Linked DNA regions of Homo sapiens: region 2 is linked to region 1. Evidence: fine-mapped expression QTL. A gene starts in region 1. The other region holds a variant in brackets. All regions are shown on one strand. Distances are between the middles of the regions. Region 1 holds the start of TANGO2 (transport and golgi organization 2 homolog). Region 2 overlaps TANGO2 (transport and golgi organization 2 homolog).

The links.
Region 2: its variant is fine-mapped to the expression of TANGO2 in whole blood (TOPMed, PIP above 0.99).

The regions. Positions count from the first base shown.
Region 1 is chr22:20,018,694-20,023,071 of GRCh38, forward strand. It overlaps TANGO2 (transport and golgi organization 2 homolog), which reads left to right and starts at 2,417. Exons shown (of 9, transcript NM_152906.7): 1 at 2,417-2,553. RefSeq lists a silencer at 2,180-2,569 and an enhancer at 3,170-3,219.
Region 2 is chr22:20,062,832-20,067,209 of GRCh38, forward strand. It overlaps TANGO2 (transport and golgi organization 2 homolog), which reads left to right. Exons shown (of 9, transcript NM_152906.7): 8 at 507-611; 9 at 1,711-4,333. The coding sequence ends at 1,831. Among named protein-coding and RNA genes, the nearest start is that of DGCR8, 15 kb to the right of the region's middle. RefSeq lists an enhancer at 3,277-3,777. The variant C/A (reference allele first, on the strand shown) is at 2,127.

The DNA.
Region 1 (4,378 bases):
GGTCAGAGGATGTCGGGGCAGCACCAATTCAAACAGGACTCAGGACCGCTGTCCAGCAGTCGGCCCATTAGGCTGCAGCCAGGGGTCAGAAACACAACAAGGGAGGCTGGGCGCAGTGGCTCATGCCTGTAATCCCAGCACTTTGGGAGGCCAAGGCAGGCAAATCACCAGAGGTCAGGAGTTCGAGACCAGCCTGGCCAACATAGCAAAACCCCATCTCTACTAAAAGAATACAAAAAAAAGTAGCGGGGCATGGTGGTAGACGCCCATAGTCCCAGCTACTTGGGAGGCTGAGGCAGGAGATCGCTTGAACCTGGGAGGCGGAGGTTGCAGTGAGCTGAAATTGCACCACCGCACGGCAGCCTAGGAGACAGAGCGAGACTCCATCTCAAAAAAAAGGAAAAAAGAAAAAGATAAGAAAAACACAGCAAGGGAGACCACAGGGACCAGTAGCCCAGTGTTCTCCCTCTCTCATCCTCTCACCTAGCTCCATGCGGACAGCTGTGAGGCCCCCGGAGAAAGCCACAGAGAGAAAATGCTTTCAGCTGGGTGTCAAGAACTTTTCAAGAGTGGCAGCTGTTGAAATCAAAAGAGTGGCCACAGAAGGTAGTGAGCTTCCTATCTGAGTTTGTGTGCAATTAGAGGTTGGATGCCAGTGAGCCTGTTGCAGCCCCAAGATCCCAGGGCTTAGGTGCCCATCCTAGACCCATTTCATCTGCCGTCACCTGCTTCCTGGCATCGCATGTCATCCAGACTGGAGTGTCAGTGGTGACAAAGAAGATCAGAGTGTCTGCTCTGGCTCTGTCTAGCTGGGAAAAGTATGGCTGGGGGTGGGGATGGCCCAAGGCCACAAGGTATGACAGAACAGGATGCAAACCACCATCTGACATGTTACTGCATCCCTCTTTGTGGGCAAAGGGAAACCTTGGTCAACTCATGTCCAGCTTTGAGGTGCATGGCCTGGTGCTTTGGGGAAGCCCATTCTCCAGGTGCTGCCATGAACCCCAGGGCACAGTCCATCACCCCCAAGCCCCAGATCCCACTTGTCCACCACCACCACCTCTTGGCCCTATAGATTGCATAGGTTTGGCTGCTCAGAGGGAAATCACTGGTACCAGCCCCACATGATCCCACTGCTGGATGGTGGGAGAGACAACCATGTCTGGCTGGGTCTGCGGCCCGCTGGCCATGAGTCCCTGGGCATCTGGAGTCCTTGTAAAAGGTTCTGTTGGGTTCCAGGGGAAACACAGATAAGATAGCAAAAGTGTGGAGCACAACGGGCCCGCATGTAGGTCCAGGTTAGACTCTTGCCGTTGCTGATTACCAGCCAGGCTCTTCCCATCCCTGAGCCCCAGTTTTCTGCAGGGCATCAGGGCACCTAGGTCTTCAACACAGGTTGAAGCTAATGTGGCCTCTCTTGCTTGCCACCTTTTTCAACTTCAACTGAATGACATAACTGCTCCAAGTCTCAGTGTTTACATCTATAAAGTGGGATGAAAGAACTGCTGACCCAGACATTGGGTTTAGAGTGCTTTACACATTATCATTATCCCTAATGTCTTTGTCATCCATGTCATAGTTTTTTGAATGCTCACTTTGAGGCAGGGCCTGAGCCTCTGGGCTTTGACTCTCCACCTTTCTGCCACATAGGCCCAGGCACAGCCCAGAGGCTACAGGAGCAGCGGTCCCAGCTAATGCCTCTGTCCTGTTGGGAGGGCCCCAGTCAGTGCCCACCTGCTCACCCTGCACAAGTCAAGCTGGGCCAGCCCCTCGTCGCTGGGGCCTGGACCTGGATGTGAGCTCAAAGGCTACACTGGGGGGTGGAAGTGGGGGAGGTGGTGGGTGTGCAGGGTATAGTGCTCAAATGCCTAGTCCAGGGTCTGGGGGTACATACTGGGAATGGCAGGGACATCAGGGAGGAAAGAGCCGACCTGGAGGCCATAAAGTGAAGGAAGGGATGACCAAGAGGAAGATGGCCAGGTCCAGAGGTGGGGTTGAGTGAACAGGATGGGGAGACCAGGACGCAGTCTGAGGGGGCCAGTCCGGAAGTGAGCATTCCTGTACCTCTTCCGAGAGAGGCCGCAGGGTGAGCAGGTGACAGATGGTGTCCATGAGGGCATGGACTCAGGGGCGGCTGCGACCTCCCATGGCGTCCCTGCAGGCAGGGAGCCGCGGAGTCCCCGAAGGCCGCTGGATCAGGAAGCGCTCAGACGCCCGCGCAGCCCGAAGCTTTGGCGCAGCCCCGGGGGCGGGGCGCCAGGAGGTGGCAGCCTCCGAGCGACAGCGCGCCCAGCCAACGGGACGCCGGCATGCGGCGCGCCGCCCCGCCCCTCGCTGCGCGGCCCAATGGTGAACGCGCCGGCTTCGGGCTGGGCGGTACTGGGCTGGCTGCGGTGGCGCGCGGGCGCGGCACCCGGAAGTCGGCGGCGGTGGCGGAGGCGGTGAGTGCGCGGCTCCGGGGCTGGCCGACTCCGCTAGTGGCCCGGCCGGCCTGGGCTCGGGGGCTCCGGGCTCTGGGCTCTGGGTGCGCGGACCGGGCCAGGCTGCTTGAAGGTGGGTGGGCTGGCCGCACTTCCTCACCCTGCCTCAGTTTCCCCTTTCTGAGGTATGGTATAGAATCAGGCGGCTGGGTCAGGGGCAACCACGTCGATCCCGGCCGACGAAAATGCCCCGCGCGTTACTGGAAGGTGTTTTTGATAATCCCCGCTGGCACGGGATGCGAGGGACTCTGGCAGGTGGGACCAGACTCGCTGCGGGGAGGCTGAGATCGGCAGGGTTGGGAGCTGCGTGGTCCCTGCAGGGTGTGTGGGCTGCTCGGCCTTGGCCAGCATCAGGGACAGCTCTGGCGCCCGGTCACTCTGCCCCCTACCCGCGGCCTGCTGCGGGCCAGCAGGGTGACAGCTAATGTGGGTGTGAGTAGATAGTAAGTGCTGGGTCATCCCTGCGCCTGGATGCGGCCTTCCTGGGGAGGTTTGGGTAGTTAGATCCCCCACCCCCAACTCCAGAGCGTCAGAGGTAGGGGCTGGCAGGGCTGCACTCAGGGCAGTCCTTGCCCCACCGCTGGGCTTTGTAGCAGCCTGGGCTTTGCCCGTTTTCCTCTAGGAAGTGGGCACAGAGGGCTGTTTGCTGAGACCCCCACCTTCCCTGCCCCTAGCACCTCTCCTGTGCTCCCTTGGCTTCCTGCTGGACCACAAGCTTTAGAGTGAACCGTCTGCCCTTGGACAAGTCCCTGGGCCTCAGGCCCCCTTCCTCTTCAGGAATGTCACATGCCCTGCCCTGGCCAGGCCTGTTTGCACTGTCGTGTGGCTCTAGACCTGCTGACCACTGTTTTGCTGCCACTCTGGGCACAGTGCCCTCTTCCATGAGGCAGATGTGACGGCAGCTATAAGGGGGTAGCTGAGTAGCTCTTTGGAAGGCTTTCTCACGCTAGCTCATTTGCCTCTGGGCAGCCTTTTGGGGCAAGCATTCATTGATCCAGTCCTGCTCATACAAGGAAAACTCAGGCTAAGGTGGCAGATCGTGTTCCCAAGGTCATTCAGAGCCAGGGCCTGCTCCCAGTGCCTCTACTACTCCTGGGCCACTCTCTTAGGAGTGTCCCTGTGTCTGTGTCCTGCGTCTGTGTTGGGTGGGCTGGGAGCAGCTGGAGAGGGTGACCATGTTGTTAGATGGACACAGCAGAGCCTCTGTTCCCACAGGATCCTAGTGCTCTGGTGGTCCAGGGTAGGGTGCCCTGGTGCCCCCACCCCCTTTGACCCCTACACAGCTTTGTGTTACTTGCATGTCCTCAGACTGCAGGCCCCTCAGACCAAGCCCCTGCCTGCTGTGATGTGTGGTGGCCATAGCCCTTCCCTGAGCTAAGGTGACCAGCTGTCAGCTCTTCCTGGGCTGCCCAGCCTCTTGTGCTTCCTTGGTCTTCACTTGTGGGCTGTCATTCTGATTACGTTTTGCAGTGTGTGGAATCACGTGCAGTGTCCTGGGAACTTGATCCTGTGCCCGGCTTCTGCGCCAGACGGCGAACTTGGAGGGCACCCCGGTGCCCACCCAAGGGTGCTGCTTCTGAAAACACCCACAGGGATATGAGGGGCTTCTCAGGGACCCCAGAAGGGGTCTGGAGAGAAATGGCCCGGGATAGGGAGGCTGGGAAGACTTCTCGAAGTAGGGCCATGCTTGTCATTGACACTCCAGATGCATGAGAAGCAGGGCCCATCCTTTGGTGACGTGTCAGTCAGCACATGGCAGCAGCATGGCAGAGCCTGGCCTTTGTTGGCCCCTACCATAGGGCTTGGGCTGTCTTGAAAACAAGCCTATCCCTACCATGAGGATGGGCTCCGTGAAAACAAGGTCACCCCAGAAAGACTGAGCTGCTTTTTGAGGTTAT
Region 2 (4,378 bases), 44 kb after region 1:
AGGAAACACGCCTGGTGTGTGACTCACGCCTGTAATCCCAGCACTTTGGGAAGCCGAGGTGGGCGGATCACCTGAGGTCAGGAGGTCAAAACCAACTTGGTCAACATGGTGAAACTCTGTCTCTACTAAAAACACAAAATTAGATGGCTGGGTGGTGCACGCCTGTAATCCCAGCTGACGGCTGGAGCCCCGATGCTAGCTACAATGGCTGGCTTGAGTGGACTTCTGTCAGGAGAATTGCTTGAACTCGGGAGGTGGAAGTTGCAGTGAGCCAAGATCGTACCATTGCGCTCTAGTCTGGGCGACAAGAGTGAAACTCCTCCTCAAAAAAAGAAAATAAGAGAAAAGAGAAGAGAAGAGGAAAAAGAAAAGAAGAAAAGAAACAACCCTTGCAGTTCCCCGGCCACTCCCCAGAGCCAGTTAGGCCACCAGGTGGGCTGGGGCTAGACCCGGCTGCGGGCGGGCCACAGAGGGACTAATGGCCACCACTTCTCTCCATCCTGCAGGCAGCTGCCAGACCCGGCCATCGAGGACCAGGGTGGGGAGTACGTGCAGCCCATGCTGAGCAAGTACGCGGCTGTGTGCGTGCGCTGCCCTGGCTACGGCACCAGGTATTGCAGCACCGTGGGTGCGCCACCTCCTATCCCATGTCCCACCTCCCACGCTAGAGGGCCGGCAAAGAAGCCAAGTGCCCATAGCCAGAGCCAGGCTTCTTCCTCGCCTGAGTGGATTCCAGAGCTTCTGCCCTGTCCAGACGCAGCTGCAGGGTGAGCAGATACCACAGGCTCCCGGGGCCCCACAGGCTGGGCTTAAGGAGCCAGTACACAGCCACACAGGGCCAGGATGGCTTCAGGGCTGCCTGCACATTGGTGGATCCCTGCGGGCAAACGCCCCGGCACCATGGCACTAGGCCTGCAGGCTGTACCCTTGGGTGGTGGCTGCTGGCCAGCCTTTCCTGCCTGGGGCTGGCTGGCCCATTGGCAGGTGCAGGGTGTCATTTCCTTCAGCCCCTCCTCTGTCATAGGCTCATCTTCCTGTGTGTGAGGGGAAGGCAAGTGCCAACTCCACTCCCTGGCAGGCCGCATAGCCGCTGGGTCCCACCCCACGGGGTGCACTGCGTATGTGTCTGCCCTGGGAACCAGCCTGTGCTGGGGCTGTTGGGGGATCCAGGGCCACCCTCCGTCTGCAAAGCCCACGGCAGAGAGGGTTGGAGGAGAGGAGAGTGTGCTGAATGTTTGCTTCAGGTGGGCTGGCATGGCCTGGGCAGTGGAAGAGAGGGCACAGGAGGGAAGCCTTCCAGACAGAGGAGGCCTGGGCCCCAAGTGGTCAACAGCTTGACCTCTTGGAAGAACCAAGCATGGCTGTGTCTGGGAACCTGGGCCTCCAAAGGGGAAGTGTGTGGTCAGCCCGCAGGCTGCCCTATGCCTTGGCTCATGCTACACGGGGAGAGCAGGGCAGGGTGGGGTGGTTCCCAGTGAAGGTGGCAGGACTCAGCAAGTGTGGGCCTGTGGAGCCAGCCAAGAGCTCACACGCCACTGATGGCCCCTCATCATCCCCAAGACTGAGGCTGCTGCTCTCTGTGACTTGGCACAGCCTCCAGGCATGGGGTTCCTAACTCTACCTGCCTGCATTCTTGCCCTATTTGTGGCTGTGACAGGCAGGGCAGGGCTGAGGGACACCAGGTGAACGAGGGCCCCTGCTCTCTTTCAGAACCAACACTATCATCCTGGTAGATGCGGACGGCCACGTGACCTTCACTGAGCGTAGCATGATGGACAAGGACCTCTCCCACTGGGAGACCAGAACCTATGAGTTCACACTGCAGAGCTAACCCCACCTCTGGGCCTGGCCAGTGGGCTCCTGGGGGGCCCTGCCTTGAGGGGCACTGTGGACAGGAAACCTTCCTTTGCCATACTGCATTGCACTGCCCGTGGCTTGGCCAGCATCCCCCGGATCAGGGCCCTGTGGTTTGCGTGTTACCCATCTGTGTCCCCATGCCCAGTTCAGGGTCTGCCTTTATGCCAGTGAGGAGCAGCAGAGTCTGATACTAGGTCTAGGACCGGCCGAGGTATACCATGAACATGTGGATACACCTGAGCCCACTCTTGCACATGTACACAGGCACT[C/A]ACATGGCACACACATACACTCCTGCGTGTGCACAAGCACACACATGCAAGCCATATACATGGACACCGACACAGGCACATGTACGTGCACAGGTGTGCTACACATGTGCACACATGCACAGTTGCACAGACACACACACACAGGTGCACACACACGATGCCGAACAAGGCAGAAGGGCGACTCTCACCTCTCATGTGCTTCTGGCCAGTAGGTCTTTGTTCTGGTCCAACGACAGGAGTAGGCTTGTATTTAAAAGCGGCCCCTCCTCTCCTGTGGCCACAGAACACAGGCGTGCTTGGACTCTTGACAAGCAGACCTGCTCCTGCAGAGGAGACAGCCACATTTGGAATTGGGCACCGAGAAGACCTGAGAAAAACCCACTCTCTCTTTTTTTTTTTTTTGAGACGGAGTCTTGCTCTGTCACCCAGGCTGGAGTGCAGTGGCACGATCTCGGCTCACTGCAACCTCCGCCTCCCAAGTTCAAGCAATTCTCCTGCCCCAGCCTCCTGATTAGCTGGGATTACAGGCGTGTGCCACCATGCCCAGCTAATTTTTGTGTTTTTAGTAGAGACGGGGTTTCACCATGTTGGTCAGGCTGGTCTTGAACTCCTGACGTGGTGATCCACCTGCCTCGGCCTCCCAAAGTGCTGGGATTACAGGCGTGAGCCACCACGCCTGGCCGAAAAACCCACTCTCATAACAGAAGTGCAGACTCATTGCTAGATTCAGTGCCCTTGAGTGTGCCAGAGGTCCTCTGTGTTTGAGACAATCCTGTGTGTGCCAGGAGGCTCCGTGTGCACCAGGGGCTCTCAGAATCCCGCTTACCCAGCTGGAGACCATGCCTCTGGCAGCCCCATCTCAGCCAGCCCTGCTCTCTCCCTCTTCCCTCCAGGTGAGGCAAACTTCATAGGAATCTGTACCTGAATGTGAGCTCCTGATAATAAAACTCTGAGGCTTTGGTGAGCGCATTTCGAGGCCTTTCCCTTGTATGCAGGGTGCCAGTGGGAGCTGCTATGTCTCCTGTGCAGCCAGACACCCTGGACGAGGCCCTTCCCACCTCCCCCTTTCCTCACGGCTTCTTCAGCACCACATGTGGATGCCTGTGGGTCAGTCCATCTGTCCATGGGCAGGGGCCGCTGTGAGAGACCCCATGCGCGTGGGATGTGGTAGATGCTGATTATGGGGCCAGCCACCCATACAGGTCTATCAGGTCGCAATGGAGGCCCCACTGGAGCGGGAGGCAGGCTGGCCTGGACTTCTGTTGGATGATGGGGGCCAGGGGATGGTAGGAGGGGCAGGAGAGCAGGTCTGCATCTGTCTCAGCCCCAGGAGCTCCTGGTTTGGGGCCAGCTCTAAGGAGCTTCATCCCTGAGCCTGGCCGAGTATAAGGGGGTCCCGGATATCCAATGCTGAGACCTAGACTTTTCTAAGCCTCTGCACCCAACCCCTAACTTGGCCTTTTCAGACCCATGAGAGTGCAGGGTGGGTGTGGACCTGCGCCAGGGCTTCCCAGCCTGATTGTGACATGATGTGAGTCCACCTAGGGAGGAGCAGGGGCCTCCCCGTCTCTTCCCCTTCTTGCCCAGACCACTTTGCTGGGCTCAGAGCCTTCCATGGCTCACTTTGAACTCAGAAGAGTTTCCCAGCTGCGACCCAGGCTGCACCCCCAGGCCTGAGGAGAAACTGAGGCCCCACATCCCATACGTGTCCTCTGAGTCAGGACAACAGGCTCCCGGCTGGGGGCACTGCCCTTGCTGCCAACACATTCACCTGCCCCAGTGGCTACCATGTCCTGTGCCGGTGACCAGTGCCAGTCCCCAACCTGGATGGTGCCCTGCCCTCATGAAGAGCCCCCCGGATGTTCACCTCTGCCCAGAGACCCGGCCTGCCCAGGAAGAGCAGTCTCTGCTCTTGTGTGGGTCCCTCTGCCCCCACCCTGCCCAGGGCTCCCCAGCAGCCTGAGGCCCCTAAGGAAGAACAGCCCTCAATGGTGATTCTATTGGTGTTATGAGTTGTGTCCCCAAAGAGATATATCAGTGTCCTGACCCACAGTACCTCAGAATGTGACTGCATTTGGAGATAGGGTTCTTCCAGGGGTAACCAAGGTAGAATGAGGTCGTTAGTGTGGGCCCTAATCCAATATGACGGCTATCCTTATAAAAAGAGGAACATTTAGGCTGGATACAGTGGCTCATGCCTATAATCCCAGCACCTTGGGAGGCTGAGGCAGGAGGACTGCTTGAGCTCAGGA